Linked DNA regions of Homo sapiens: regions 1 and 2 are each linked to region 3. The links come from fine-mapping of genetic effects on gene expression. A gene starts in region 3. Each other region holds a variant in brackets. All regions are shown on one strand. Distances are between the middles of the regions. Region 1 overlaps CHL1 (cell adhesion molecule L1 like). Region 2 overlaps LOC105376921 (a long non-coding RNA gene). Region 3 holds the start of CHL1 (cell adhesion molecule L1 like).

The links. PIP is the estimated chance that this variant, and not a neighbour inherited with it, causes the effect. A credible set is the group of variants that fine-mapping cannot tell apart.
Region 1: its variant is the best candidate, but not a certain one, in a credible set for the expression of CHL1 in unexposed skin (GTEx, PIP 0.73).
Region 2: its variant is the best candidate, but not a certain one, in a credible set for the expression of CHL1 in unexposed skin (GTEx, PIP 0.67).

The regions. Positions count from the first base shown.
Region 1 is chr3:279,586-290,833 of GRCh38, forward strand. All of the region lies in intron 2 of CHL1 (cell adhesion molecule L1 like), which reads left to right. It also overlaps the pseudogene RNU6-1194P. Among named protein-coding and RNA genes, the nearest start is that of CHL1-AS2, 88 kb to the left of the region's middle. The variant C/T (reference allele first, on the strand shown) is at 5,569.
Region 2 is chr3:57,742-69,015 of GRCh38, forward strand. LOC105376921 (a long non-coding RNA gene) reads left to right here. Exons shown (of 3, transcript XR_940533.2): 2 at 9,584-9,772; 3 at 9,886-9,976. It overlaps LOC107986040 (a long non-coding RNA gene), which reads left to right and starts at 10,144. Exons shown (of 2, transcript XR_001740550.1): 1 at 10,144-10,271. The variant A/G (reference allele first, on the strand shown) is at 5,548.
Region 3 is chr3:191,814-203,087 of GRCh38, forward strand. CHL1 (cell adhesion molecule L1 like) reads left to right here and starts at 4,950. Exons shown (of 28, transcript NM_006614.4): 1 at 4,950-5,250. CHL1-AS2 (CHL1 antisense RNA 2) reads right to left here and starts at 5,528. Exons shown (of 4, transcript NR_144487.1): 1 at 5,154-5,528; 2 at 4,643-4,695; 3 at 4,183-4,227; 4 at 3,945-4,101.

The sequences.
Region 1 (11,248 bases), 88 kb after region 3:
AATGGTCTTTTTTATTCACTGAATCTCCTTTGAAAGTATAAACATTAGTCCTTGTTCTATGGTTTTGGAAATTGATGACTGCTATTCTCAAAGGATAGTATAGTTGGAATGATTGAAGGAGCAGAGCAAAAAGCTGAACTGAAACAATGGAGGGAGGAAAGATAGTACCAGAGACAATGAGAGAAGTGGGCAGTGATTGGAAGGGAATCCGAAGTAGGGATTGGGGACTTAAAGGCTGCTTAGACTTGATTAATAAATGCTGTATAAATGAAATGCTGAGACAAGGGATAAAATTGCACTTGAGAAGTCACTTGAAAATGTGTTAATGCCTTTACTTGACAAGCATTTATTTTTTCATCCTGGGTATAAAACCACTGTAGGAAAATGTAGATCATTTTTTCACACTGAGTATTTTTTAACTGCTGATTATGGTTATGTTGTCCTAAAATCAGGTTTCTATTATCTGAAAAGAAAATAAAAAGAAATAAATATAGGTGTGTAAAGATAAGTATTTTGGAGGCATGGATCTTCAGGTGAAGTGTCATGTAATATCTTTGCTAAGTCGGGATAAAAATAAAATTTAAAACTGAAATTCATATTTAAAAAGTTCTTAGTAGAGTCTAGGCATTTTTTTTTTTTTAGTGTACCTAACAGTGATGAAAATTTTGTATCTAAAAGAATGAGGGATTTTGCAAGGGATTTTCAGGAGACTGTGGCACTGTCATGGATGGTAGCTATACCATTTTCTAACAAAGTATGTCAAGAAAATTGAACATCAGTCTTCTTACTAGAAAAGAGAATCTGTGGCAAATTATTTTATTAATAACAGCAAACTGAAGAGCCACAAAATAATTTAGATAAGAATTAAAGTGCTGAATAACTTAGATAAGAATTAAAGTGCTGAATAATTTAGATAAGAATTAAAGTGCTGAAACAATTTTATTACTGGTAAAGCTGAATTCAGAACTGCTTCTGGTAATTTTACTGTATCAAGCAGGCCCTGAGAAAGACAACCTGGAACTGTTTAAAGGGAGATGTTCAACGATGGTCACAAGATGCAGGACTCAAGAGCTTCCACCATTAGAAACTATCACCTTTACTACCACCAACAAAATACCTTTTTCTCTGAGAAGGAGTCAGTGAAGGGTAGAGATGAAATAGGAAAAATTTGGTTGGTTGGGTGGGTAGTAAGTTTAATCATTACTCTTCTTTAATGAGTAATAGAGTGGAAATAACTTTCCTCTCTGGTTTTAAAAGTTAACTAATAGTAAGTGTCTTTGTTAAAACACGTAGACACACACATGCACCACACACACACACACATGCACCACACACACACACACACACACGCACACACAACAACTGTTTGCTACAGGATTTCTAATTAATGATATCACATTTTCTAACCCAGTAATTCCCAACTGGGGTTATTTTTTTCCCCTAGGGGACATCTGACAATGTCTAGATACATTTTTTGGTAGTAATGACTTGTATTACTGGTTTCTCAAGGGTAGAGACCAGTGATTCTCCTAAATTCTCCTACAACACCCAGCATATCTCCTCACAACAAGGAATTATTCAGTTGGAAATTTCAAGGGCCCTCAGGTTGATAAGCCCTGTAATTGCTTGAAGTAACTTAATCTCCCTAGTAATTGTGCAGTATCTCATAGTTATTCCTTCTTCCACTACTACTCCCCACAAATTTGCCCACAAACTTGAGAATTTACATAACTCCAGGAGTACAATAGAAAGGGACCTCACATCCAAGTGCTTGGGTACTGTGCTATCCTCTGGTTCCTTATTTGCCTTCACCACTATGATTTACTATTGGTAAAGTTGTGGTCATGTCGGTTCTCCTGGACTACCAGAGCCCAGAAATCTTCTCTTGTTGATGGTTCACCTCTGTCTTAAAGTCTACTTTGTCTAATGTTAATATAACTACCCCAGATTTGTTTTATTTTTCCAATTTGTACCTTTTTTTTTTTTTTTTTTGAGACAAAGTCCCACTCTGTCGCCCAGGCTGGAATGCAGTGGCACAATCTCAGCTTACTGCAACCTCTGTCTCCTGGGTTCAAGCGATTCTCATGCCTCAGCCCCCCAAATAGCTGGGATTACAGGCACATGCCACCATGACTGGCTAATTTTTGTATTTTTAGTAGAGATGGGGTTTCACCATGTTGGCCAGGCTGGTCATGAACTCCTGGCCTCAAGTGATCTGCTTGCCTTGGCCTCCCAAAGTGCTGGGATTACAGGCGTGAGCCACCATGCCCAGCCTATTTCTTTTTCCTATATTTTTGCTTTTGCTTTGTAAATACCTTTGAATATACAGTTTATCTCTTCTAGATACGACATAATCATATCATTTCAAAAACTATTCTGCTAATCCTTACTTTTTGTTAGTGTTTAATTCATTTATGTCTTATATAATTACTGATAAGGTAGAATTGATGCCTGGTGTTTCTATGTCTTTGCTTTTTTATTCCTTCATATCTGCCTTGTTTTTCATTAAATAAATATTGTCTGGCATGCCATTTTATTACCTTGTTTCTTTTGTTGTAGCTTTAAAACTATTTTCTTAGTATCTGTTCTGGGGAATACAATTAGCATTTTACTAAAATAATCTAGATCAGATAAAAATTAACTTAATAGTATACAGAAACTTTGCTCTAATATGTACCTGTTACTTCTTTCCTCCTTGGCTGTTATTGTCATACAAATTACTTTTATACTGTGTAAGCCCATTAACGTGGTATTATAATTCTTGATTTATGTAGTTGTCTTTTAATCGGATAGAAGAAAAGAGTTACAACAATATTTTAATACTTTCTTTTGTATTTTCCTTTACTAGTGTTCTTTATTTATTTGTATAGATTGAGGTTAACATCTAGTGTTCTTTCATTTTAGCTTGAAGGATCCTTAACATTTTTGGCAGTGCAGGACTGCTAGTAAGAAATTATCTCAGTTTCTGTTTATCCAAGAATGTCTTATTATTATTTTTGTAATTTTCAAAGAATAGTTTTGCTGTGTATAGAATTCTTGGTTGACTGTTTGTGACTGGTTGACTGTCTTTCTCCTTCAGCACATTGAATATGTCATCCCACTGAAAAATGTGAATGGCTTCACAAATTTGCATGTCATCTTTGCCCAAGGACCATAGTAACCTTCCCTGTATCATTCAAGTTTTAGATGGGTCACCAAAGCAAGCACTCTGGATCTTTCCATACTGCAATAGAAATGAGGAAGACTTGGGGGAACTTACTATTTCTCTCCATATAAATCCTGCCTTTGCCACTTTTTATCTGTTTTCTGGACTATACTGTATAGAATACAGGGTCTTTCTAAGAAAACAAAATACTTTGATTTTGTGTCCAGGGATCCAAGTAAAAGCCCTGCTTTTGGGGCATCTGGTGGTTTTCTAACAGCTCCTGCTCTGATTGTTTCCTTGTATTCCAGTTTTCTGCCTAATCACATGCAGAACCATTCCATTCACATAGTGAATACATCTCTCACTTGACACAGGGATCCTCATTTATGGGAAAGAAACACAAACCTTTCATTTGAAAAAGATATTATTATGTTTGCTTTATGCAGTACATAAATAAAACTTGATGATCACTTTCTCATAGCCATTCTCTTCACGAATATCATTAGCATTCAATGCAGAAATTAGCCTGCAGTCTTCCCCTAATGTTTGCATGTATCTTTTTTGTGATCCAACATTTTGCTATTAAATAGAATGAATTATGTGGAGACATGATTAGATAATACCAAGAGTATAAGTTTCCTGAGATTAGCAATCACACATGGTTTATTTTAGTCCTTTGTAGAATGTTGTGACTATCTTTCTATTTATGTACACATGTATCTATGAAGTACTTATTCATCCATCCTTTTATTCATTAGTCTAGCCAGTCAACTATCTATTCATCTATCTGTCTGTCTATCTGTCTCTAACATATCTTTTTCTTCACAGGAATTCAATTTGATGTTAGCATATGATAGTTGTCTAATAAATACATGTTAAATTAAATTCATATGAGGAATACAGACTCTAGTGTAAACTATTGGCATTACTGAAATATGGGCTTGATCATTCATTGTGTGGGTAACTACCCCATGGGTACATACATTGGATGTTTAGAACCATCATCCCCGGCATCTCAATATAAGCCAGTATTATTCTCCCAATTGTAACAACCAAAAATGTCTTCAGATAACATAAAAACATCCGTGGGGGAAAAATCCCTCTCCTCCACCCCAGTTGAGAACAGCTGGTATAAAAGCATCCTTTCCTTCTTTTATCACAGTATGTATGATTAAAATAAATGTTAACAATGACTAATAGTAGGGAATTTATCAGATGAATGAATGCATTTACATATGTATTTTCCAGATAGTCACACTCTCCCTCACTGATTCATCCACCCATTTATTATTCAACAAACACTTACTATGTACCAATTATCCACTAAGTACTTTGCCAGGTAGAGGGGATACATTCGTGAAATGTAAGTTTCTGCCCTGATGGGGCTTACAGACTTTCGGTGGAACTAGATAAAACAACGAAACAAAAGATATTACTAATAAGTGTTTTGTTTACAATAAGGCAGGAAGTTATAAGGGAAAGACAGGGGGGCTGCATGAGATTAGTGGACAAGGAAGGACTTTCTGAGGTGACATTTAAGGTGAGAAATGAATAATAAGAGGAAAACAAACAAAGATGTGAAAAATTTATTCATTAATTTTACTTATTTCTTATAGCATATGAGGTTTATGCTAGGAGTGCAAAAGGATGATCATTTGGTGGCATATCAACTTGCTTCTCTACCCATATTTGTGAAAAACACCAGATTGTTTGTGTGGAAGCCACTGGGAACTGTTCCAAACCGTGTGAGAAGTCTGACGTTTTTTATTGAGGGAGCATAGCCCTACCAATGTAAAGGCGTTGTTTTATGACAATGCCGTGAAAACTGGTAAGACATTGAAAAGCAAAAATGAGACATGCAGACCTTAAAATATCCTGTGTGATAAGAACTAGTGATTGTTCACTGAAAAAGACAAATTTTAGTTCTATCTTCATGACATTATATGTTGCTGGGGAGATGGTGGTGACCAGGGAAAACTGTTCAGAGGAAAATCCTGGCCTGATACATTTAAAAGAAAGCAGGTAAATGCGTATTCATCTTTTTTTTTTTTTCTCCAACCTCAGTAGATCTAAGGACATTAATCAGACCTTGGGATAATTATATATAGCTGTGCTATGAGTACGTGGATTCATTTATAATTCCATTGGTAGTAGATAATGCAATTAAGTACAAAATTCTGCAGAATCTATTATATCGTTGTTTGACGAATCAAATAATGTATTCTGCATTTTTATTCTCATGAATATTTCCCTTATAAATAGATGTCTAAAATGAACTATTTTGCATATGCTTGCCTTATGAAAGTAGGCTTATCCACTGGAAATACAAAGCTGTTTTAAGCATATTTGTGTGTTTAAACATGCTTACGCATGTTTTCAAGCATAATTGAAATAATTAGAATAAGTTTCATTATCACCTTTCA[C/T]CTTTTATGCTAGATGCTGGATCAAGTCAAAACTGGAATTGCAAGTCAAACATCTTGATGAGATACAGAATTCTGTAAAGGGAAGAGATGAATTACAAAATACAACCTTGTTTGAGGAAGACATTATGACAGCTGGGTGACTTGGGCATTTAAATGGAATCTGATGAAGTCCCTCCCACCATTTTCTCTATAAAATGCCAATGGCATTTAAAAGTAGTGTCACCAGAGGAGCCAATGTATATTTTTATACTGCAATTAAGCAATTGAGTACAAAATTCAGTACAGTCAGTGGGAATGTGATCAGATGAATAAAGGAAGTCAGAGAAGATAATCATTTCAGTTCTTTCCCTAATTTTGCTTTCTAGCCTGGTACTTAAAATTCACAGGCTCACAAGTCTCACTGGGCTCCAGAGAAGAAGCCTGACTCCTCCCCAGCTGTGTACTCTCAGGCAAACTACGTAGACTCTACCTCAGTTTACTCAATTTTAAAATTGAGATCATAATTCTTGTCTTCTAGAATATTTGTGAGGATTGAATGAAATACTATGTATAATATGCACATTACATAGCTAATGCTCAATAAATCATAACTTTATGATTAGCAATGTTTGTTTCCCTCAGAAGTGACCTAAAACCAACAACAACAATATTTTTATTTTGCTTTCTATGATCACTGCTAATTATGAAAAAAAAAATGTGCCTGCCTTGATGCTTAGGAAAGAAAAATGGTTGCAATGAGAGAGAAAGCAGTGTTTCCAGACTTGTGATGACTTTATTCAGTTTTCTGCATTTTGTTTCTCTCTGGCAGTTTTTTTTCTCCTGTCACTTTCAAGATTGAACATAATTACAGTAATGAATTATAAATGAACATAATATGTAATGAATATAATACATAAAGTTTATTACCCCCATTTTCATAATTCTGATTCCAAGTTAGAGATCCCCTTCCAAGATAGGCTCCATAGCCTCCTGTGTAAGATGTCTCTGCCCACCCTACCCCAGATAACACCACCCAGTTTGTCTCCTGCAAGGCACTTATCACAACCCTTAATGTTTTTTGTTATTCGCAGGGGGTCCTGATCCATGCCCCAAAAGTGGGTTCTTGGATCTCGCACAAGAAAGAATTTGGGGCAAGTCCATAGAGTAAAGTGAAAGCAAGTTTATTAAGAAAGTAGGGCTGGGCATGGTGGCTCATGCCTGTAATCCCAGCACTTTGGGAGGCCGAAGTGAGTGGATCACCTGAGGTCAGGAGATCAAGACCAGCCTGGCCAACATGGTGAAACCCCATCTCTACTAAAAATACAAAAATTAGCCAGGCATGGTGACGCACCCCTGTAATCCCAGCTACTTGGGAGGCTGAGGCAGGAGAACCACTTGAACTTAGTAGGCGTAGGTTGCAGTGAGCCGAGATTGCGCCATTGCACTCCAGCCTGGGTGACAGAGTGAGACTTTGTCTCAAAAAAAAAAAAAAAAAATTAAACAAAGAAAGTAAAGGAATAAAAGAATGGCTACTCTATAGACAGAACAGAAGCATGAGCTACCCAGTTGCTTATACTTATTGTTACTTATTGATTAATGCTAAACAAGGGGTGGATTATTCATGATTTTCCAGGAAAGCGGTAGGCAATTCCCAGAACTGAGGGTTCTTTCCCTTTTTAGACCATATAAGGTAACTTTCTGACGTTGCCATGGCATTTGTAAACTGTCATGGCACTGGTGGGAGTGTCTTTTAGCGTGCTAATTAGAATATAATGAGCAGTGAGGACCACCAGAGGTCACTTTCATTACCATTTTGGTTTTGGTGGGATTTGGCCAGCTTCTTCACCGCCACCTGTTTTATCAGCAAGGTCTTTATGACCTGTATCTTGTGCCAACCTCCTATCTCATCCTCTGACTTAGAATACCCATCCTTCTGGGAATGCAGCCCAGTAGGTCTCAGCCTTATTTTACCTAACCCCCATTCAAGATGGAGTTGCTCTGGTTCAAACGCCTCTGACATTTTCATTTATACTTTTCACATATGTATCAACATATAATATAAAAATTTAAAATGTCATATATTATATATTAATACATATTATATTTACCATCATTAGAATGTAAATTCTAGTAGGTCAGTGAAGAAATCTGTCTTGTTCACCACTCCCTCTCTAGACAATAGCTCTGTGCCAGGTACATGCAGACACTCAATGTATATTGAATGTTGAAGAACTTTTCCTGCAAACCGTAATTGCCACCTGATAGGTTTACACATTCGATTGTCTTTTCACCTGCTCTTATATAAATTTGTGCTGAGACACGCAAGCCATTTGATGTTGTAGTTATTTTTTACAGTAGAGGTGCTTTGGGAAAGATGATTGAGATACCTCCTTATAATCTTAGAATCCATCCTAAAATGTCTTCTACTCAGATAATAAATGCCAGTCTTTGATTTGATATATTTAACTCTTTAGGTAATATTTACAATACATAGAACTAACTGGATTTAGTAAGATGCTTTAATTTACTGATAGCATGCTACTTATTAGTGTGTGCCTTCAAGCATCAAATATACCAAAAAAATGATCATTTTTGTTATGGTAGCAGATAGATACATTGCTCCACTGGTGTCTTTTTTTGTTTTTTTTTTTGAGATGGAGTCTCACTCTATCATCCAGGGTGGAGTGCAGTGGCACGATCTCAGTTCACTGCAACCTCCGCCTCCCGGGTTGAAGCGATTCTCCTGCCTCAGCCTCCCGAGTAGCTGGGACTACAGGCGTGCGCCATCACGCCAGGCTAAGTTTTTTGTATTTTTAGTAGAGATGGGGTTTTACCCTGTTGGCCAGGCTGGTCTCAAACTCCTGACCTCGGGCAATCTGCCCACCTTAGCCTCCCAAAGTGCTGGGATTACAGGCATGAGCCACTATGACCCGCCTTCACTGGAATTCTTTAGCTAGCCTTATTTTACTTGGATTCTGATTGAAATATGTTCTCCTCAGAATACAGGATGAAACAAAGCTAATTTAAGGTGACCAAGTTTATACATTAAGTACAATTAGTGCATTTTTCACCAGAAAGTTGGTCACTACTTTAAGATTTTACCTTCATTTTCATTAGAAGGTATTGGTTAATCTATTATCTCCTCTCTCTAACTGCAGTCATCATATTAAACTTTTGCAAATTTTAGGTGACAAACACATGTCGAATTTACATATATACAGGCATAATTTACATATATGCATATACAATGTACAATATATCCAGAAGGTAATTAGCAACTGGTTACAGTTTGCTACTAATGTACAATATATCCAGAAGGTAATTAGCAACTGGTTACAGTTTGCTACTAATGAGGTCAAGTTTACAGATCTACTGTTCCTCTGAGTCTGTCTTTTGGCTCTGTTGCATTGCCACAGATCCTATCATGATCCCTGGGCTGCTGTTTCACACACGTTGTTTGTCACAGGAGGGGGGCCATGAAGGAGGATGTGATTGCTCCCCTGCCAACCCCCTACCTCTACTGGTCAAGGATCTCAGCATTTTTCTGACGAATGGCATGGGCGGGATGCGCTCCATCTTTGCATTCTCTATGTGTCAGGCTGTGTCCACAGGGAATTGTCTGTGAAGGGTTTTTAAATCAGTGGGACCAGTAACACCATCTTTATATAGTGAAGACAGCTTATCATTAAATATAGTTTGAGACAAGCTTAATTGTGCAACTGAAAAATATTTTCGATAATATTTACAACTTTTATCTATTTAGTGTTATTAGATGAAGACTTTATCATTTTTTTCCATCATGCCTTTGGTTTTGTGAGCTTCTTTTTTGTTTTTATTTCCCGATTTCTTTCTTTCAGATACTTTTAATCAACATTTCTTCCTTTGGAAAACAGGTCAAATGACAATGCGAAGGGTGATCAAGGAGAAAATGTGTGAAGTAGAAGCCTAGAACTCAAGAGAAATGAATAATATCTTGGCATCACTTACTTTGCTTTAATTTCTTAGTTTTACTCCTTTAATGTAACAACTGTTTTTCATTTAAAAGGGAGTCATGAAACAAACATCTATATAATATTTTGGGGATTAAAAATGCATTTGCAAAGTTAGATTTATTGGTTTTTATCTTAAAGACATAAAAACTTGATATCATATTTAATTTTGTGCTCAAACTTACCGATAACACATTACTTAATCCTTGAAATTATTTGCTTTATTCCCTGTTGTGGATTAAGATGAGTGATTTTATTCTGAAAATATTAGGTTGTTGTAAAAGTAATTGTGGTTTTTGCCATTAATAATTCACAATATGAGAGCAATTATAGAATCTAGCTAAAATTATATGTATTTATCCATCTCTCATTATTCATGGTAGTTATCTTCTATAAAGTCTCTGCAAACACTGAATTAGTAAATACTGAACAATTACTCCTGGTAGGTAAATAAGAGCTTGGTTCCTGCACGACTCTGGCCACATTTTTGTCAATCTATCAATACATAATCTTATTTTATATGTATTTCTGTTTAATGATATCTTATGTAATACATATTGTATGCTCATTAATACATTTATTTAATACATATTGATTTAATACATATCTTATTTAATACATATTTTATGCTCATTAATACATTTATTTAATACATATTGATTTAATACATCTTATTTAATACATATTGTATGCTCATTAATACATTTACTTAATACATATTGATGCTCATGTGCTTTCGAGCATCAAATATACCAAAAAAATGATCATTTTTGTTATGGTAGCACATAGATACATTGCTCCACTGGTATCTTTTTTTTTTTTTTTTTTTTTGAGATGGAGTCTCACTCTATCACCCAGGGTGGAGTGCAGTATACTCACAGTATACTCATAGCCAATAGCACCGTAACTCACCCCTCATTGAAGCTTGTTCAACACAGTTTTTTTCTCTGTAAGGCATGTTATAGCCTCCTTGTGCTTAAGAAAACTAGGGAGCACTTCTGCATTATTTTTAAACAGCAAGTCATTTTAAACAGCAGAATCATAAACAAAAAACATAAAAATGAGAAGAACTAAATAGACCATGAAAAAACCACTTGTTTATAGTAAGAGAACTGAAACATGAAGGCAGAGTTTCACTTTGTTCAACCTCAGCTGGCAACATGTGTAGGGGGTAACTCAAATTTTGTGATTCTCTGCACATGTTGGGGAAAGATCACACAAATATTGTGAGTATTAATTTGGAGTACAAATTAATATTAGCAAATAGCTGTATTTGCAAATATGGAATCTGTGGATAATGAGAACAGACAGTATTTATATTCTAGGTTAGAAAAGAGAAAATGAGCTCCTTTTAGTCATCAGAAGCCAATGAAAGACCTGGGTTTAGTATTTTCTTCCATCTCTTGATTTCTGTTTGCTTAATTGAATGACAAATTCTAATTAGTCATGCCTGACTAACATAATTTAGGATGAAACTATGTCTTCATCACTCTCTACTTCTGACCCTGGCCCTGTTCCTAGAGTACAGTAGGCATTCAGTTAATGCTTGTTGAAAGAATGCATAAACCCCTTTCCTCATTTGGAACTTTATGGAATTGCTGAGAACATCAGATGGCAATAAGGTGATTGGAGCTGTAATCACACACAAAAAGTTGTCTATTTTAATTAGCCAGGTGTGGTGGCACACACCTGTAATCCCAGCTACTTGGGAG
Region 2 (11,274 bases), 130 kb before region 3:
ACACATTGAGACTTCTTGACAAATGTAGTAACCAGTGGTGTGACCTTGCAGAAATTATTAAATTATTTTTGCTCCTTTTTCTTCAACTCTAAAATGGTTATAATAATAGTTGTTTACCTTGTTGGGGCTCAGAAACCAATACCTCAAAATATGCTGCTCTGGCATGCCAAAGTAAAGGGAGACCTTTAAGGTCTCCCTCTGACCTTCCTCTGCCTTCCTGTTTCTCTGATCCTTTTTATTTTCCAAAAGGGACTTTCTCTGAAATTTCCGTATTTGTCTGAGAAAACTTCTTGTAAATTAAAGGAAATTATCTTAAAACCCTCTTCTTAGGAATCTCATTAAATAACCAGGAAGGATTAACACTGGAGAAGAGGAGAGACTGGAAATTGTAACCACATGCAGACAGACTTTTCATCGATTCTTTTAAGGGCAGTTGTGAGAAATTACTTGGGGAACTGTACTTGCGTAATAAGACAACCATTGTTCACAATGCAGTTCTGCCCCACACCCTTCTCTAACTTGTCCACCAGCTATTGTGTGTTTTTTGGTTGCATTCAGCATCCAAAGAGAATCTTTGATAAATCATTATCTTGTCCTTGGGTCTATTCATTCACTTTCCTCTCTCCAATGAAGAGGATATTTAAGCATCAATCATCTGGCCCTTTTTTGAGTTTTTAATATTTTTTTGTGTGACTCCTATGCACATAATAAATTTGTTATGCTTGTCTCTTATCAAGCTCTCTTTTGTTACGGGGAGTTTTGGCCATGACCCTTTATGAGGAGAAAAGGGATCACCCCCTTTTTGCGTCTACAACCTTATAGAGATGTTGTAAGGGTTATATGAGACAGTTTACATAAAGTATTTAGTACCTTGCCTAGCACATAGTTAGTGCTCAACTAAGGCGAGTTATTATTACTATTAGCAGTAGTGTCATAGAGGAGACAATTTAGAATTTGTTGTTAGAGAGAACTGAATTTGTATCTTGGATTTTCCATCTATGTATTTCCGTTACCTCTTCAGCCTTGCTGGTATATTGCTACTTGTTTTGTAGTGTTATTTTATATGCTTGTGTGTGTCTGTGTAATATATACAGGGAGAAGAGAGAGAGAAACATATTAATATTGAATAACTGCTGGGAATTTCTTGTCTCACACTTAAAATGATAATCCAGTTTACATGCACATAATACATGGATGCAGATTTGTTGATCAGATTAATATTATAAGAAGCTAAAATAGGAAACAACCTAAATACTGAAAAATAAAAAATTATTTAAATTGGTGTTAATATACCTGTGTAACAAAAAGTTACACAACCATTAAAATTATGTTTAGGAGGAATATGTAATCTGAAAAATCTTAGATTTTTAAGTAAAGAAAAGAAAACAGGCTACAGGGTAGGTTGTGTATCATAACCCCAAAGTAGAAGAAAAGTGTACAAATAGATGTGGATGAATATATACAATAGGAAACATTCAGAATGAAAGGTTAACAGTGGTTATTTCTGCAAGTTACCATTACCAGCAGTCTTTATTTTCTATGTTCACTTATGTGTTTGTGTGATTTGTATATCACATTAACATAGTTTATGTTTGAAACACTACTACTAATAATAATGATAACTAATAGGTGTTATTTTATAAAGTAAAACAAAAACTCAGTGGTTTGGAGAAAAAGAAATTACCTAATTACCTCCCTCTTCAATCCAGTCCTTGAGTCCTACTCCAATCAGACAAACCCACACACAAACACATAGCCTGTCATCCATCACCTCCATCTGCTTCTCCTTTTCTGTCTGCTCAGCCACATGCTTCTACTGAAGACTGTGTCTATGCCAATTTTCCAAAGCTTCTTCCGTCTCGGGCCATTGCTGATACTTGACCTTTTACTTTCCAATCTGTTCTGTCCATCACCAGTGTTTAATATTTCTATCATGTGCATTTAAATGATTATTAGCGTTCTCTTTCAGGAAAGAACCCCATCTTCTCTCATTTGTCTTACTCGAAGGTGACGCACAGAAAACTTGATACCAAGTTGTTGCTTCATGAGCACTCAGGATTGGCCAGCTTCATTTCATGATCTGTCTAGGTTCCTTGCTCTAAATCTTTCACCGGATCAGAAACATGAAACAAAGTGGTGCTTTAAGTTGCACAGTCTCCCCCTTATTGCTTGAATTTAACGCTGCCGTCACACAACAATGAATCTTTCACCTGGAGGTGTGGTGGTGAGTGAGTTCTCACTCTTAGTTCCCGTAAGAGCCTGTTGTTAAAAAGATCCCGTCACCTCTCCATGATCTCTCTTGCTTCCTCTCTCAGCGTGTGATCTCTGCACATGCCAGCTTCCCTTCACCTTCCACTCTGAGTGGAAGAAGCCTGAGCCTTTCACGCGATGCCCAGTCTTCCAGCCAGCAGAATTGTGAGCCAAATAGTTTTTTCTTTATAAATCATTCAGTCTCAGGTATTCCTTTATAGCAACACAAAATAAATTTAGACAATTCCTCTCTGATTTTTAACTTCTTCATCTATAAAATGGAGATAATAACACATTCTTTAAGGTATCTTTTTAAAGCCTAAATGAAATAATACTTAAAATGCTTAGCAGAATGTCTGACATAAAACAGGATATTATTGATTATTAATTGTTATAGTAGGCAGTGAGGTGGCCCCCACAAAAAGATATGTCCATATTCTAATCCCCAGGTTTTGTAACCATTATCTTACACGGCAAAAGAATAACTATTTGTCTTATAGGGCAAAAGATGTTATTAATCTAAGGACCTTGAGAGGTGGAGCTATCCTGGATTATCCTAGTGCAAGGTAAATGTGATCACATCCATCCTTATCACAGAGAGGTGGAAGAAATTTAGACACAGACACACAAAGAAGAAGAAGATAGACAGAAGAAGAGTGGGTGATGTGAGACATAGACAGAGATTGAAGTGATGGGCCCACAAGCTAAGGAATTGCTACAGCCACCAGAAGCTGGAAGAGGCAAAGAACAAATTATCTCCATGAGGTTTCAGAGGGAGCACAGCCCTTCTGACACTGATTTCAACTCAGTGAAACTGATTTCAGATTTCTGACCTCTAGAATTTGGGGAATATAAATTTATGTTCTTTTAAGCCACCAGACATGTGGTACTTTGTTACGGTGGTAATAGAAAACTGATACAGATTTTATTTTGTTTTGCTTTGTTTTGAGACAGGGTCTCATTCTGCCACCCAGACTGGAGTGCAATGGCAAGATCATGTCTCACTGCAGCCTCGACGGCCTGGGCTCAAGCAATCCTTCTACCTCAGCCTCTCAAGTAGTTGGGATAGTACCTGACAGTAGCCACCAGGTCTGGCTAATTTTTTATTTTTTTGTAGAGACAGTGTTTTGGCATGTTACCCAGGCTGGTCTCGAACTCCTGGACTCAAGTGATCCTCCCACCTCAGCTTCCCAAAGTGCTGAGACTAGAGGCATGAGCCACCAGGCCAGGTTCAGGTTTTTTATATTTGTTGTAATAAATTTCTAAAAATGTAGAAGTGGCTTTGCAATTGCATAGTGATAGAAGCTGGAAGAATATGAGGAAGCATGATAACAAAGGACTACACTTCTTTGAACAGACTATTTGTAGAAATATGGACATTGAAGGAGATTCTGGTGAGAGCTCAGAACAAAGTGAGGAACAAGGTAGGGAAGTCTTCTATAGTTTTAGAGAATACATGTGTTGTCATAGAAAGAATATTGGTAGAAATATGAATGTTAGAAGCACGGCAGAAGAGGGTTCAGCACCAGGAATAAGCAGCATGTTATTGGAAACTGGAGGAAAAGGGATCCTTATTATATACTGGCAGAAAAGTTGGCTTAATTGTGTCCTACAATTTTTGTGTCAAAAGCAGGATTTATAAGCAATGAACTTGGATATTTAGCTAAGGAGATGACCAGGTCTGCTGTCAAAAAGTGCAACCTGGTTTCTTCTTGATGCTTATTGTAGAATGCAAGAGGGAATAAATGGATTGAGGAAGGAACTGTTAAGCAGAAAGAAATGATGATTTAATAATTTTGGAAATTTACAACCTATCAGGATTAAAAAGAAACCTAACTAATATTGAGACTAAGGATCACCGTTAGAAAAAAGAAATGCTCTTGAGAGAAAGCCAAAGTTGTGGCTGGACAGGAATTTAATAATTGCAGATGTGTGACTTCTGAACTCACTCAACCGTCTCAACAGAAGCTAAGAAGAGTTGGGTTTATCCAGGAAAGGCCTACGGAGTATGCTGTTGTTTAATTATATGAGTCCCTGTGACAAACATGGGAGACCCACAAGGTTTTGGGGAATATTGTATCAGCAGAAACACTGCCAGACTGGCCTGAAAGGGACATACATGGGACATAATGAAGGCAGACTGTCAGACTTCTGGGATTTTATAGGCAGAAAATGGGCTGATAGAACTAGTTGGCTACAAACATGTATTATCATTCAAAAAAAAGAGAAGAATGACTCTGAGTGCAGAGCCTTGGGTACAGAGGGCAAAGCTCCAGACCCAGAGATCATAGCTTCAAGCAACAGAAAATAATTGTCAGGTCTTGAAACCTAAGGAAATTTTCCTTGCTGGATTTTGAACTGGCTTGGCATCAGTGACCACTTTGTATCTTCCATTGTCTCCCTTAAAATGGCAGTGTTTATAACTATTAACTACACTTGCCCATCATTGTATTTTGGAGGCAGATAACTTTTTTTTTCGAGGTTCTCATGTCCACAGATGGAGAGGGATTTTGGTGTCCTATCTATTGGCCCTGTCAAGTTAATATATAAAACTAACAATCACACATGTATCCTTCAAAGCGAAAGGAAAAGGGAGTCAGAGATAGACACAAAACGGAGGACATACACAGAGAAGGCAATATGAAGAGAGCAGCAAAGATTGGAATGATGCAACTACAAGCCAAGGAATGCTGAGGGTTGATGGTGCCTACCAGAAGTTAAAAGATAGGCATGCAGCAGATTCTCCCTTACAGTTTTGGAGGAAGTGTGACCTTGCCAACACTTTGAGTTTGGACTTCTGGCCTTCATAATTATGAGAAAATACATTTCTGTTGTTTTACGCCTCCAGGTTTGTAGTAATTTGTTACAGCAACCTAGAAAACAAATACAGTTCTCTTAGCTCTTGGTAATCCCCAGAAAGTAGAATAGGCATTAGCCCAGAGTAAGCATAAAATGTTACTGATAATGTTATGTCCTGATTTATAGTTCATTTCTGAGGATATTGTGTGTGCTCAGTAAATGTTTTTTGACTTGAATAAAAGTCCCAAAATGTGCAAATAGGTGTCACGGACATCTCTAAAATAGCCTCAAAGAACATTTCTAAAATGTCCCCCTCCTCCTCCCTGTCTTCTAAACACTCATTTCAAGTAAACACTGCTTCGAAAGCAAGTTTAAAATGCAGCTTGATTGATGGCTCATCAGCAGCAAACAATCACATTCAAAGCCGCATATTTACATGGTCAATACACAAATTAAACATGAGATTTCCCTGAAGTCACTCTATAAACTTGTTAGATC[A/G]AAAGTCACTTATGCACTTCATTTCGGGGAAGGAGGTCACCCAGCCTGCAGAACACAGATTATTCATGGCATGAAGAAATTCTTTGTTTCGCAGGGTTAGGCTTGGATCAGAATTGCGGTAAACCTCTTGGCTAGTAGCAGAATATTGACTAAAGCTCTGTCTTCCACCAGTGCAGAGGAGAAAGCCCTGTCAAAACCCACAAGAAATCTTTTTCTTGTTTCTAATCATCTCAAACACTGCTGAATACTTTATCTCTCACAGGAGCAGACTTCTTTGTTCTCACAGTTACGAAATGAAGGGGAGGGTGAGGGCAATCTGTTCTCAGCCAGAAGCAAATGAGGTTTTGCAAGATAACCAGGGGCATAGAGACTTCTCCCATACCTGGTAAAACATTGTGTCTAGGGATGCCCCACCCCAGGCATGTTGCCTTCCTCTGGACCTGTGCCAAGATCCCGAACAAACCTAAATGGGAAACTCAAAACCAAGCAGAGAAAATAACTGAAATCCAGGAGGAGTTGGTTTATGAAGCCCAATTAGATAGCCTGAATATTGCATTCAAAAGGTGACTAAGTCAAGACTTGAAAAACATCAGCATAAGTCAGAAGGATGTGAGTGGTAAAACTGGCAAGGAGTAGACAAAATGCAATGGGAATAGTCAATGCATAGAGAACATATTTTTTAAAAAGAGATTAAATGGCAGTGTAAAGAAAATCTTACTCTTGGTAAAACCTCAGTATCTCTCTTTTTTAGGATTGTATTTTTGGGTTGCTAGCTTCAGGTTAAAATATATAGAAAATACTGTAGTATTATGAAGGCCATACTACCAAATTTTTAGGAAATATTCTATGCTAGGTATTACATTAAATATTTTGTTAATCTCTAACATCCCTACAAGATGAAGTCAGATAAAGATAGAAATTAAGACTGAAAGATTAAAGGACTTGTTTCACATCATACAGTTCATAATTGCTGGAGCAAAGATAAGAATTCAGGTCTACATCTTTCCATTAGATCATGCTACTCTTTAGTCAAACTCTCTAAACTACTCTTCACCAACAATTAACGTTTTCTCTGTAATATCATCAGTAGGCGAATGAGACTTGTTACCAGCACTCTATTCAAATGTATGTGGGGTGAAATAATAAAGCACTTGAATTAAGGGAGATTTTATTCAATGTTTTAGGAGAGATTCTCTCAGCATCTAGTATCCCTAGTTACCCCCTTCAGCTTCCTGAGGAGGATTATTTCTCCTTGTCTCTACAGGCCTAAAGAAAGGTAAATCAGATGTATTAAAAGTGCCTTTTCAACTTATGAGAATCTGCAGTATGCTTAGTTCTTTGCTGGGACACTGTTACAAAAGGAATAAATGAATTACTGAAGTCTCTGCTCTCAGGAATTTATCATGAAGAGGGACAGAGTGGAACTTCACAAAATTATTAGGAAGTGCAACACAAAAGTCAGTTTAGGTCAGAGCCTTCCCTCATTCTGATTCCACATTCTATTGCTTTGAACATGTTCATTTGTCCGATCTGGAGACTAACTGTTTCTTATACTCTGATGGTCCCCTTGGGTTTACACCGGTTTCCACTTTTTCTGCTCTAGTAGTAACGTCTCCTTGTTAGGCATTAGGGCTTTTGCAGAATCCTTTACAATATGACAGAATAACATGAGTCAATTATTTATAGTTAAGGTGCATTGAAAACATATATTTCAAAATGAACATGGTGCAGAACTTGCTGGATATAGGGAATGAAGAGAACTAAGAGGTTTGCAAAGAAGTTTTGGGTGAGGAATTGAGAAAGAAATGAGAGCTGTGAGAGGATGATAGGTTAGAAGAAAAAGGGAAAAGAAGATTTTACAAAGTGTTAATTTAAATTTTAAATGAACAGTTTTCCTTTTCTGAGAAATGCAAGTTAATGGATGTGCTGCAGTTTGCACTACTTCTGGCTCCTGGGCTGAGTGAATGTCACTAGGATTCTCCTCAGAAACTCTACTACATGGGTGCCAGCTTACATTCAGGTTACATGTATGTAGCACTGTCTATGTGGAAGCACCATTCTAGGCACTAAGTATACAATAGTGATCAAGGTTGGTGATATGGTTTAGCTGCTTCCCCACCCAAATCTCACATTGAATTGTAGCTCCCATAATGCCCACATGTCATGAGAGGGACCTGGTGGTAGCAATTGAATCATGGGGCAGGTTTTTCCCATGCTGTTCTCATGATACTGTATAAGTCTTATGAGATCTGATGGTTTTGTAAAGGGCAGTTGCCCTGCACACACTGTCTTGCCTGCCACCACGTAAGATGTACCTCTGCTCTTCCTTCACCTTCCACCATGATGGTGAGGCCTCCCCAGCCATGTGGAACTCTGAGTCCATTAAACCTCTTTTCTTTATAAATTACCAAGTTTTGGGTATTTATTCATAGTAGTATAAAAATAGACTAACACAGCTGGCATAGTCTCCAGCCCCAAAAGAATTCAAATTCCAGTGAAAAGGCAATGACAGAAATTATCACCATAGTAGGACTATAATTTGTGAGGACGTATGATGCTTTCTAAATATGGCACCGTTTATTCCTCAGACCAATCTTGTGAGATTAGTGTTATCAATTCTGTCTGATAGTGAAAGAATTCAACTCAGAGAGTCCAGGTTCTGTTCAGTGGAGATGCATATAATGAACAGCTGAGCTGGGATTCAAAACATAGATCTGTCTGAGTCCAAAAGCCTTCATCTTGGCAGTGGAATATAGTCAATGGCTAAGAGACAAGAAACAATGGAGAGCTTAGAACTAACCCTTTGGAGATGCTAACATTCCTGGGTTTGGAGAGGAAATGCTGGTCAGGGGCTAAATAAGGCACTCAGGATGTCAGAAAGATGTGGGACAAAATAATGCAAGGTGGTATAATATTTCTGAAAGCTGAAGAATTGACATTATCTAATAATAGGGAAAAACTCAGGATGTAGTCAAGAATCCTTTATTTTTGGAAATCCTAATATTGAAAGCATAGATTTCAGGTGGATGTTGAAGTCTCCAATGGCCACCAAAACTGCAGGGCTCTAAAAAGGTGTTAGGTTTTGAGAAAAACTTAAATGTGACGCAGACCTTTTATTCAGCAAAAAAAAAAAAAAGTTGTTGCAAAGGTAATCACTAAAATGGACAGGCATTTTAAAATATTAAAACAATGAGGTTTGTTGACAGGTATCTAATAGAGGAAAGAAAAAGCCAGTTGAGATGGCAATATTGAAAACGGCCACCTGGCACACAACTTCGGGGGGTGCCATTCATCTTGAGCTCTGTTTCAAGGCATGTGTTACTCATAGATCACAATACGAATGGTGCCCTCTAGAGCTGTGCAACGCGCATCTGTGCAACGATGTTGCTGTGAGAGGGAGTAATGTCTCATAAAAATCAACATGAAAGAATAGGAAAAACATAGTCTTGGTATTTAGAAATGTTACTGTGTGCCCTTGCGTACTTCATTTTATTACCTGGACCTCAATATATATAAAATTGAAAGACCGGACTGGGTGAATTGTATTAAGAGCACTAGGAACATAAATTCAAATTTGTGCTGTATTTACAAACCTCTTTTCACAATCACAATTACATTTAATATAATAAAATGAATGATGGCATGTTATTATATTCATCTTATTATTCTCATTTTTATTCTTTTTAATTTTTTTTTTTTTTGAAAAATAGAGACAGGGTTTTGCTATGTTGCCCAGGCTGGTTTCAAACTCCTGGCTTTAAGCAGTCCTCTCACCTGGGCCTCCCACAGTGTTAGGATTACAGGTGTAAAGCCACAATACCCAGCCCATCTTGTTATTTTCATAATAAATAAGCTTTTAGTTTTTAACCTGAAGTTCAGTAAGTTCAGCCAACTTGTCTGTGATCAGACAACTAGGGACTACTGGTGGCCAAAATAAAAATTCCTAATGGCAAACCCTATGTAGAAGGGGATGATGTCTAGGAAAGAGATGGAGGATTGGTGATGCATTCACATTCTTCTTATGATCTATTTGCAGATGTCTTCTACGAACATTTGTTTCCCAAACCAGAGAAACCCTTATTCACTCATTAACCATTGGGATTTTTGTTCAAAGGCCCATGAATTATTGCTACTTTAAATTTGCAAGCAAATTTATAATTGGATCCTGATGTCCCAGCACCCATAAATATTTTATAATAATTGTACAAACAACACTTACATTAAGGTTAGTGTAAAAGCCTTAGTAAAACTGTCAAAGCAATTTAAACAGAAAAATATGATTAAGGTGTACTTTTTACTTTTTTCCCAATAAATATAACTTGTTTTATGATATTCCAGGACATGAACGATTAAAATAGGGAGACCCCCATCTCTACCAAAAAATAGGAAGAAGAAGAAGAAGAAGAAGAAGAAGAAGAAGAAGAAGAAGAAGAAGAAGAAGAGGAAGAACAAGGAAGAGGAGGAGGAGGAAGGGAGGAAGAAAAGAAAAAATATTAGCCCGTGGTGGTGGCACACACCTATAGTCCCAGCTATTTGGGACGCTGAGGCCAGAAGACCCCTTGAGGCCAGGAGTTTGAGGCTGCAGTGAGCCATGATTATGCTACTGTGCTCCAGCCTGTGAGACAGAGTGATATCTTATGTCAAAATAAATAAATAAGTATTGGTGAAAATATAATAGGATAAAATTGCAAGCCATAGGAAATGGAAGTCTAGCACTTACAGAGGTAAGCAATCTTATTTAGTTGAAAAAGCAGCAGTACTTAGCGCCACCATACCTAACTATGAATTGCTGCCAGGTCCCTTTAACGTCTGTGGGTTTTGGAACCAGTGATTTAACCTCTGTGTGGCTCCATGTCCTCAGACCTGAATTGGAGGTCATACCTATCTCACTAAACTGTGTGACAATTTAGTACAGTAAGTATGTGAAGTGCCTGATAGAGCATGACAAATGGTGGTATCTGAATTGAGAGTAGTCATGTTCATTAATACTAAAAGTTTTACAGGACATTTTTAAACTGTGTATTCATCTATTATGTTTCAAGTGATGTTTAATTTAAGACTTTTCAGTTTGACGTTATTGCAACAGAGACATGTTTCCCATATGACCACATATATTCCTCCCTAAGTGTTATATGTTGCAGACTATTCTTGTAAAAATATGAGACAGTTAATTTAAATTCATATCATTGATTATGTATATGGAGACAAGGTTTATTAAAATTGGCTGGTTGACTTGATTATATCAATTTGTATTTAGGGATCTATGGTCGATAAATTAGATCTGCGATTTCTTCCTTTCCTGAGTTTCACAGGCTTTGATCAATAATTTAGAAGCAGCTTTCTTTTAAAAGACATACGCTCAACATAAGCTTAACTGAACGACATGGATGTTAATAAAACTTTTCTGGCTTTCCAAGCCGTGATTTTATTTAAAACTGAATGGACATAAATCCCCTCTCATTTGCCAAATATAATTTAATCATGCGATATGTTATGGTTATTAAACGTTATATATTAGAGTGGGGATGATCTGGGCGTGAATCCTAGCCTTACTATTTACTGGTGTGTGTCCTGACACAAGTTTGTCAGCTTCTCCAAGCTTCTGTCTGTTCATTGGTTTAATGGGCATAATAATACTTAACTCAGAACTTTGTCTGAATAATTAAATAAAGTATATATATATGTAAAGTTATATATATATGTATTTGAGACAGGGTCTCACTCTGT
Region 3 (11,274 bases):
GAAGGCTCTTTCTAAGTGGTGATAAGAAGAAGGGAGTTTCTCCTGCCTTATGTCATACCTCTGAGCAACCCTCAGTTTTTTCCTAGTAGCTCATAAATCCAAGGTAGGTTTCTCATTGGCTTCTGTTGGGTCTGATGCCCTTCATAGCTTTAGTCCCCATAGACTTAGGAGTAGAAAATATTGGCTGGTCGTGCCTGGGTCACATGGACCAGGGGTAACTAGAAAGCATTGGAATTAGCCTCAATTCGGCCACATAAACATAGGAGATATTATTCCCTAGGTCCAACCAGGCTAAATGAACGGAGATAAATGCTTGGCAAGCAAAAAACAACAGGTATTCGTGGTAGCTTCCATTCTTATTTTTCTTAACTATTCTTCTGAAATTGTTCTGACGACAGAGATTACAGTTGCATTAAGGATAAAGTTTAAGCAGTTATAATAAAAGTCTCCAAAGGAGATTGGCTCAAATTGAAAGGGGACATTCAATTTTTTATGGTATTAAGTAGGTTCTGATCCTCAGAGTCATGTAGGAATTCAGGCCAGAGTGGGGTTTCTTTGTCATCCTCAACATGAGCCTTTTACTACTGTGGGTTAGTCAAAAGGAAAAGGAGAAGTGAATCTAGATGATCTTTAAGTAGATGAGCTGAGAGTTGCCAACAGCATTTTTCCTCATGTCTCTTTGGTGAGAACCTAGTCCTAGAACCAAACTAAGTCAAAAGAGTGACTAGAAAATTTAGTCTTTAGGTTAGCGGCCCTGTGTCCAGAAGGAGAAAAAGAACTAGGCCGGGCGCCATTGGCTCTCGCCTGTAACCCCAGCACTCTGGGAGGCCGAAGCGGGCGGATCACGAGGTCAGGAGACCATGCTGGCTCACATGGTGAAAATCAGTCTCTACCAAAAATACAAGAAGAAATGAGCCGGGCGGGTTGGCGGGCGCCTGTGGTCCCAGCTACTCCCGGGGCCGAGGCGGGAGAATGGCGGGAACCCGGGGGGCGGAGCTTGCGGGGAGCCGAGGTCGCGCCACCGCACTCCAGCCTGGGCGACAGGGCCAGACTCCGTCACATACAACAACAACAAAAACAACAAAAAACAGATTAGTGGGCAGAGGAAGTGGAGAACAACCTGTGGCTGCCACAAGCTCTTGTTGGTCTTTCCTTTTTCTCTAACATGTTTCTGTTACATTGAGTGGAAAACATACTTTCAAAAACAACTGGAAAAAAAAAGAAAAGGAGAAACTTCATTTTGGCTATGTGTCTCTGTAAAAAGATCAGCCTTTATGCTCCTGGTATTACTCGCTATCCCACTATTCGACATTTGTCTTGTTTGCTGCAACAGAATAATAATAAATAAAATTATCTTCAAAGATGGCAGTGACTTTTCATCCTGTAAAATGATACAAGATTAAAAACTTGGAGATTTTTTTCAATATATTCTCGGCCATTAACCAGTTGTACAACTCTGATAAAATTTCTGAACCTTACTCTTTTCAGATATAAAAAGAAGCTATGGAAGATTATGTTTTCTGAGGTCCCTTCCAGACTGAAAAGATTTCGTACCATGTTGGAAATAGAGAGGTTTAGAAGAAATTCTCATCCTCCAGACATATGAGGACTTTCTCCAACAAATAGGAATTCATCCTATAACTCAGTTCACAGGCCTTTGAGATAAGACTTGGGGGCATAGGACTTTGGAGCAAACCATCAATAGGAGAGAAAACTAGTCATTGTAGGCATTGCTGATTGGAGGGTGGGAAATCCTTCTGACCTGCACAAGTAATCAATGGATGCCTTAAAGCATGAGATTTGAAAACACTTAACATTATCTTGGCTACATAATTATAATGTTATTAATGGCCACAAAGTTTCTTAGCCTTTTTAAAAAATCCAGTGAAAGTATTTGATTTCATGACCTCCCAGGGCTGAATTATACATATTAATGATCCATGGCATGCAATACAAGATTTTACCTTTTTAGTTGTTCCAGAATTATTGCCCTTTGATTTTTAATACATATCCTTTTGTTCTTGTATTAAAGGACAAGTTAAAGGAGTAGTGACTCTGTCAGGATAACTCTGCAGAATTAATATGGTCTTTTTAGCTTTATTAATATCAAAGCTGAAGTGGCTGCTTTGTACTTTCAAGGTTGCTTTTGAAGGATCTATTCCTCAGTGGAACATCCTGCTTCCTGCTTTTTATTTTTTATTTTTATTTTTTATTACAGCAGTTGGCCGGAAAGCCCCTGTTGATCTGTGACTATTTGGAACTGCTAGACTGAAATGCCATTTTCAAAACTCCAGCTCTTCTGCTAAACAATTTTTCTAGGAATGATGCCACATCACTAGCTACTTGTATTTGCCAAAAGGCAATACTACTTCAATGGCCCTAGCTCTGGGAATGATACCAAATGATGGTTCAGGAGGGAGGGAGGGAGGCAGTAAATCAGCAGGAAAAGCTGAAAAATGCCCCAGCTTTTAATAGCTTTTATCTTTTTCCAGATGACTGGCCTCTCTCTCACCTTCTGCTTCTATTCATGATAGGGCCCTTTTCTCCCCTATTTTTGTGGCTTGATATTAGTATTTTCATTCGAAACGGCCGTCCTCAATTATCAGAGAGAAAATTCACACCTTTCAAAGCTACGGCAATCACATTTCCATGTGACTCATAAGTATATCTTCTTTCTCTAGCACCTAGGTGCAACTGTGGGATGCCTGATAGATTAGGATTGTATGTTGAATGGGAAATGGGTCTGAACCAAGTGTCAGACAGTAGAATGGGAGCCAGGGGAGGGTTCCAAAGCAGCAGCAGAAGGTATCTCTAGCAAGCATCCGCTCTGGCTGGGGACTGTCTTCTGGTTCCAGCCTTACTGGAAGCTCAGGCTGTAGAGTTGTGAATTCCTGGGGCCAGGCAAGCCTAGATGTGTTGCCTGCTTTTGATAATGTATCAAAAATATGAACTCATCCTTGGAAGCGACAGCTATGAGGTGTTTCTTGGATGTAGAAATTTAGGTCATCTGTCTTCCTTTTGCATTGCCTTAAAAAGTACGATTTCCTTTCTTGGTTTATCATTTGCTGGCCTTCTTTCTTTCCATCCTTCCTCCCTTCCTTCCTTCCTTCCTCCCTTTTTTCCTTCCCTAGACTTTCCCTATCTCCCTCTTTTCTTTCGTAAAATTTGGTTGCCTGGGATAACGTGTATTGCATACAAGCTGACTTCCTTACTGTCCCTAGTAAGCTATGTGTGGCTATTATTTCTTCATTTATATGCAATGCCAGAAGCTTAGAAGAATGTTATCTCCCTTTCAGTTAAAAACTCATAGTTAAGAACTGGCCATCTTCTTGTTTTGGGTATTGTGGCTTGGTACTGTCTAATATATTTGGAGGGTATTTGATTTTTTAAAAAGCTACTGGCCATGCCTATTGAGTTTCCTACTGAGCCCAGCACCCAGACCAGTGATTGATTAAATAGTAGCTGCTCAATAAATATTTGTTTTGTAAATAATGATTCTATTGTCAAGAAACAAATCACCAAGAAAGAAGGAGCTATATATTTAAGAGTACTCTGTTCATCTGGCCAAAATGGAGTTCCGAGTCCCTTGCTCAGCTGATGTTTGTTCACCCAGAAGATGGTAAACTCCTGAGACCAACTTCGCTTTGTTGTTCTCTTGTGGTTCCTTGACCTTGGAAATGTTTTTCTACAGGCAGAGTATTTCCCCCTGTTGGAATTTTATTTAATATTCTATCTTTGTTTCTACTTTAGAAAACATGCCACGTGAATAATGATGCCTCAGGCAAAAGAAATCACTCCAGCAGTACAATTTAAACTTAGGACAAATCCTGCCCTCACTTGCATTCACAATTTGCCAAGGCAGTTGGTAAGAACTGTGCCCACACACAAATTGACAGAATCGAGGCCCCAAGGTTAGCGATGATTAAAATTTAAAAGTCCATTCATTCATTTTCAAAATATTTTATTCGATTGCTTCTGAGGCAGAATCATGAGTTGCCTTCGCTTTTGCTGCTCCCGGTGGTGGCATCCAACTCTGAGGATAGCTCATCCAACTCTGAGGGTAGCTCTGAGGGGAGCTAAATATCCTCATTGTTCAATGAGCTAGATGAAAACAAAACGAGGCTGTAAGGTCAATCTCACAGCCTTAGTGGAGTAAAAATTAGAAGTCAATAATTCTCTTACCAACAAAGAGGACTTGCATTCAACAGGATTTTCAAAAGTGGTATCCTGTAAAAATTTTGGAAAATACCACCATAATGGAAAAAAAATAAAGTGGCATATAAATCAAATGTAGTGCTAAAAATTATAATTTTTCCATATGAATTTTGGAATCCTAAAATATTTTTATGTGTTTGTGGATTCATAAGGCATCAGAACTGGCTTTTTGCACTGAATATGAGTACAGAAGGCTTTCCTCTCCAATAGTGAATTAATAAAGGATAAGTAGGAAAAACGTTACGAAACGATGTGGTAACATTATAGACTCTGTATTAGGGCAAAAATTGTGAGATAGTAGAAGATCTGTAAATTTAAGCATGCACAATTTGACAGCGGATGGTCGTAGCATATTTTGTAAATTCAATAGCAAGCCCCACCACGCCCTTAAATGAAGGAAAGCAAGAAGACAATTTTTAATACGTACATGGCACCACACCCCTCTAAGACGCAGCAATGGGAGAAAAGCAGATTGGCGACCTGTGTGTGCAACATGAACCGAGTGAAACCATCGGGGAGGGGGTGGGGGGCGTTTCTTTTAAATGTCGCTTTTGCAGATAAACGAGCAGGGATCCTACCTCTTTTGACCGGAGATGTTGAAAAGCACGACCAAAGTTTTTGGCTTGGTCTCTTGCTTTCCACAACGAGATAAAGTCTGAAGCCTGTAACTCTCCCTGTCCCGCGGGAGCGTGCAAAGGGAGGGAAGATAAGCGGCGTGGGTGAGGGGTGGCGGCGCAGAACCCAGGAAGGGAGCAGAGGCGAGAGCCAGCCTCCGGCAGGAGGGCGTAGACCCCGGTGCCAGCCAGAACGGCTCCAGCCTTCCCGCGGCCAGAGAGCCAGCGGCGGGAGGGGACGGGCGGGACCTCCGCGGACAGCCCCGGGTGCGGACCAGCGGGCAGCGGCCGGCGAGACCCTCCCTGGATCCGCCCAGAGCTTACCGGACCCTGCGCGCCCCCGTCCCGGCTCCCGGCCGGCTCGGGGGAGAAGGCGCCCGAGGGGAGGCGCCGGACAGATCGCGTTTCGGAGGCGGCGCAGGTGTGTCAGGGGTGGGGGTCCGCTGGCATCTCTCGTGCCGGCGCTGGGGGGGTCTCCCGTGGAGGAAGGGCTGAAGGTGCTCCGGGAGGGGTCCACTCGTTATGGAAAGGAAGCGGGGCGCGGTCAGGGTCCCTCGTCCGCAGTGGGGGTGGTCCGGGCCCCTCAGCCTGCACCCGGGAGGAGACGCCCCCTTTTCACGCCCCGCCCCCGGTGGCCGAGGCCGGATTCGGACAGCTCGGGGTCAGTCGACGGAGCACACCGGGCGCCCGAATCCGCCGGGTCCCACTCACGCCCGCCGGCCGCCGGTAGGTTGGCCCTCCCGCTTCCAGCCTCCGCCACCCCATCCCTCGCTGCTCTCTGAGGAGGATTCCAGACCCCCCCGTAGATCTCCGCCCTCTCTCGGGTGGGGCTCCGAGGTCTAGCTGGTCTGGGGGTCAGTCCCGGCCTCTGTCTCCCACCGCGCCCCTCGCTCCCCTGGACACCGCCTGGTGTGTGGGGCTCAGACCCCCCCAGTCCACTGCCCCTGTGTGGCTCCTCCTCTCAGGAGAGGATTCTAGATCCCAGCCCGGGGGGGGTTCCGAAAATGCCGCCAGCCTGGAGCGGGGAATCCATGGACCGTGGGGTTGTGGGGTTGGGGAGCACGAAAACCCAGAGAGGGGCTAGAGCTCCACCTCCCCAGACCGCCGAGGGGCGAGAGGGCGCGCCGGGGGCCGTGGTTGCCATGGCTCCTGGTAGCGGAGCCCGGGGGGCTGGAGATGCCGGTCGCGGATGGTCCCTTCTTCCTCTTTGTGCCTCTCTCTTTCTCTCGCTTTTTTTTTTTTTTTGGAGTGTGAGTGTGCGTGGGGAGGCAGCACGGAGAAAGTGATTAATTTGGGGAGCAGGGATTGGAGCCGGGAGGCTGGGGAAAGCCAGCCCCTCCGTTCCCACTCTCCGGGCTCGCTGCGAGCCACAGTGTCTCAGCCAGGGGCAGGGCCGGGGAACTCCTGCGAAAAACCACGGGCCGGAGGAGCAGCAGCCGCGCGGGCCCAGGTACCCCCGCCCCAGACGGCCAGCAGGGTGGAGCGCAGGGTGGGCGTTTGGGCTGCTGGGCGGGAAGGCGGGCGGGGAAGGGGTGGGAGGCCGGCGGCGGAGGGCAGGTGTGCGTCGGCAGGGCTGGGTGGCCCGGCAGAGAGGGCGCCCCAGGTTCAGCCCCTCCTCGAAGGGCGCCGGCGTCCAGTCCCGCTCGTGGGAGCCGCGGAGCAGCCCCAGGGCCGGCGAGCGGCTGCCCTGCCAGGCGCGTGCGCGAGGGCGCGCTCCCGCGGGAACGCGCCGTGCGCGGGGAGATTTGCGCGTGCGCGTGGCGATGGTAACTGGTGGGCCCCCCGGGCTCGCTCTAGGCGGAGGCTCCCGGGACGCCCACGTGGCTTCGAATTCCAGCTCCACCATCACTGTGATGCGTCACTCTGGACTAGGCATTTAACTACGTGCCTCAGTTTCCCTTTCTCAATAATACGGAGATTATCGATACCCTCTATACTGGGTTGTTGCAAGACTGGAATGAGATGATACAAGTAATTTAACACCATAGATTTTTAAATTTAACACCATATGCATATTTGATGCATAATAAGCACTCAAAAGTTATTGTCGTTGATGCCATTACTGTTAGTTAATCCTCAGTTTAATTACATATGGTGCATTTTCATTTCTCTGCATTTTCATTGAAGTAAAAATTCTGCGTTTTCTAATTTTGGAGAATAATCTTAATTAAAATATGAATATTTGTACTGCACAGTCCAACTCCTACGAAGCTCTGCCTTGCAGCAGATTGGAAGAGAGAAACTGATCAACTGCCGATGAAGTTGGCTTTTCAGTATATTGATGGAGAGAGAAGCTTAGGAAGCTCTTTGGGGAAACTTTTGGTGACAAGAAAATAAAAAGTTTATCCCAGAGTTTTTCTTTTGTAAATCTTTGTGTTTTCTCTTTCACCTGCAGATGTTGCAGTTGGGTTTGTCTTAATTTCAGTCTCTTTGTGAGGGACCACCATTTGGCTTTCATAATTTAACGTGGTTACAGAGCCTATGTATACCCTGGCTTTCCATTTTATGGCCTTAAGTGCTGCAGTGGATTTACCTTTAGTAATGGCAGAACGTAGTGTATAATCATTCCTTGCAAGCTCCTGAATATTGTGAGCAAATCAATGGAGACAAATAGTTATTACTGGATGGGTGTGAGTACTGGCTATGGCAACTCATTAAAATCTCTTTCAGGGTATGTTTGTACCCACTTCACTGCAGCACAAGACTATGATGATGAATATATGTTTCCCAGATTGTTATCTGTTGCATGTAGACTTACGGATCCTTTTCTTCAAAGAAACGGCTATAGATATTTATTGATTCCTCATGGTTATATAGGTCCTCCAACCTATCTGCTGATAAGTACACTGTACACTTCGTGGGCCTAGCTGTAGGTCTAAGAGGAGTTGATTTTGCACATACTATACTTATTGCATTTAAGTTAATTCATCTCATTACATGAATTGGTTTTAAATAAATTTTTAAAATCATTTGATTATTAAAATATAGGCATTTCTTGGTGAACTTGAGGCAAGTAAAGCCTGACAGATGTCACCATCACAAAGATCCTTAGTGACCTTTACAAAATAGAGCTCACCCAGAAAAACATTTGCTAGATAGAAACCTGATTTTATAGTTGCTTCTGAAATCTTTGAAGATAGGAGGTTATTTGCCCCAAAATTGCTTTGTTGAAATAATTTAGCCTGATTCGCTTTTATAGAAAAATAAGGGTAACGATCAAGACTGATTTAAGATTCTTGTATTTTTAACCGATAAAAGAAAATTAAGTAATAGTTGGGGAACTACTGGTGTCAGATTTGAAGGAATGATTGTCAGGAAATACTGAGAGTATTACTTCAGGTAGCAGTGTTTGGCTTTGCAAGACAACCCTCTCATCCTCACTGTGAATATGTCATCTTTAAAAGGTACCTTGAGGAATTAGTGTGACAGCTTCTCTGAAATTCATGTGATCATTTACATATTGTTTCCCAGGAGCTTTGGCATTAAATGTTTCATTTATTGGAAATTATTTTGCCCTTTAATTTATGACAGCCAACAGTGCAATAGAGTCTAATGTATTTTAGAAACAATAAAATTAGCTTTTCACCATTTTCTATTTTCCCTAAAAATCTAGCAGCAATGCACTTGGAATGCTTAAGTTAGTCCAGAGACAAATGGTAAGAGTAGGAAAACATGACAGATTGGGAGGTGTTGAGTTCTGAATTTGGGGACCTAATTGAAATGCAAAGGTATAATCAAGAGAATGAACTTGTCTCTGTACTGAGGTTGTTTTCAGTGATGTACTATATTATCTGATTCAGTCAACGTTCCTTGTTATTTTTTCAAACCAAGATTGAGAATACTATATTTTCAATTATGAACATTTTGATTACAGTTTCATTCTGACTAATTCAGTCGGAAGAGAATGCAATTATTATGGTCATTTACATACAATATGCTAAGTTAACACAGCTAATGAGTGAAAGCATAATATTCTTTCTGTTTGTTCCTGGAAAAATATTGTGCTAAGCATTCTTTCAAAGAAAGATTACATTATTCGCTATCATTTTATGTCTATCTACAAGTAGAATTGGCATTGAGCCTTTTCTCTGCTATTAAAGTGAAATCTCTTATATTTTGGTGATCACATGCCTTTCCTCTCACCCCTTGGGGGAGACTGGAAACAATTCTCAATTTAATTAGATATGCTGCTTTCTTTTTTCTGTACATCTTTATCTGAGGAAAGATTGTATTTTCTAATTTGGGAGGCTGCTTAACACCTTAAACATTACTAATTACTGCAGTTTATTTTATGTGTGTCGCAATAGTGTAGTTAGTTAATTATAGCTTTCTCATTAGCACCACGTAGAGAATAATGAATTAACACATCCCTTTGATCAAAAAGGATTTAAGTTTATCTTCTGAGAATAAAAGTGTTATTGTGTTACTGAAAGTCACTATAATTTTCCCAAGAAACAAATTGGTTGGAATTCTGTATCACTGGGTTAGGAAGCTCAATGAATGAGTTGGATTGATCACAAAGTAGAGTAGAGCTGTGGTTGCTTGGCAACCTGACATTATTCTGCCATTTCTGGTATATTTATCCAGTAAACTAGAAAATTCTGTTTCGTTAACGAATGTTTTAAGTCAGTGCACAAATAGACCATAACTAATTGAGATTTTATGTGTTGTGGGTAAAAAATGATCCTGCTTACCTTCTCATTGTGTTTAGATCATAAAAATACAAAGGGACATATTCCGTTTTCAATTTTAAGGCATTTTCCTGAAATGTTGACTTCACTTTCACATAATTTATTCCTAGTGAAGAATACAACTTGTGTATCTCTTTGGAAGTTAAATTATTAGAAGTGTGTGTGAGTGTATATGTGTATGTGTGTGTGCGTGTGTGTGATGCTTATATACATAATTTCAATAAGAATCACAACTAGAGTTTGAGGTGAGATGAATTCTCAAAATTCATAGTTTGCTAATTGAACTGACAGTTTGGTACATTTAGGGTGGGTATAAATATCTGAATCAAATGATGCTGGCAGATGATGATAAGAATGATAAATGCATTGAACTTGGTCAATATATAATTATATTTTATGCTTTGACCAGGGTTTCTTCTCCTGGTAGTCTTATAACATTCTCCCTTCTAATGTTTGTTTGCATCTTATTTCCCCTATAGTTGTGGAGGTAGGAGCTCTGTTGCCCATCTTCTGATTCACCTCTTCCTAACTCCAGGGACTACAATTGTGCCATTTTCCTATACAACCTATGAATTTTAGTGTGCATCACAATTTCCTTTTCAGACTGTAAACTCCTTGAGGGTATACATTTCCTTTTATGCATCTCATAAACTCTTAAAGTGTCTGGCACAGCAGGAAGCGAACTGTTGTGGTGGTTACATGCACTGGCTATAAAAGTCAGGCTGCCAGGGTTCAAAATCTAAGTCTGTCAGCTTGCAGGTGTGTGGCATTGGCTTAGTCATGTTGACCTCTCTAAGACTAGTTTCTTCTTTAGAAACGGGGAAATAGCCATACTTAGCTCACATGTCACATGTGTTCTTGTGGACATTGTATGGGGCAATCTATGCAGACAGATTAGTAGCACGGTTTTTTATTGTAGTGATAATTATCCTTCTATATCATGTTCAGTATGTGAATGAACAAAGATAGAGGGACAGAGCGTATGTGTGTGTGTATCCCTGTGTATGTGAATAACTGTGAGCCATGATCAATGGTGGTGTCAAATGGCAAACTGTTGATTCCTACATTAATTATATGCACATATACCAATAATGATTGCTTCACATATTTAAAAGGTTTTCGCAATAGTTGTTCTTAGGCTTGGCTGAAATTAGAATCGTCTGGAGAGTTCTGTAAAGCTACCAACCCAAATCAATTCAATTACAGTCTCTGTGGATGGTGACTAGAAATCTGGATTTTTGAAAACTTCTAGTGCGATTCTAACACGCCCTAATGTACCAATATTGGTTAAGAACCATCACCTTAGATTTGCGTACGCCGTCCACAAGATTGTGTTGGGCTAAGGCATTGGTTCACAGTCACCCTGGTGTCATGAAATGTGGCTGAAAGAGAAAAAATGCTCTGGCAAACTTCTGAGGTTTTTCTTACTAATCTTCTTGGTTTAAATAGCACTTTATTCTCTGAAGATCTCAAATGTGCTTTTCATTTACTGTGTATAATTTCGTTTTTCAACCAAATGTCTCTGTGAAGATGGTAGGAAAGAAGTAATTATCCTGATTTGCAGATGAATGTGAATGGAGTGAGCTACACTGAAATTAAGTGATTTGACTAGATTCATACATTTAGAACAGGCCCAGATAACAAGATTCCTGTGACTTTGGGGTTTTGAATATTTCTCTGTTTTGCCTGCAGACTTCCAATGAGGTAGGGAGAGTTATTGTTTTTGGACTAAAGTACTGTGTCAGAAAAAGCTT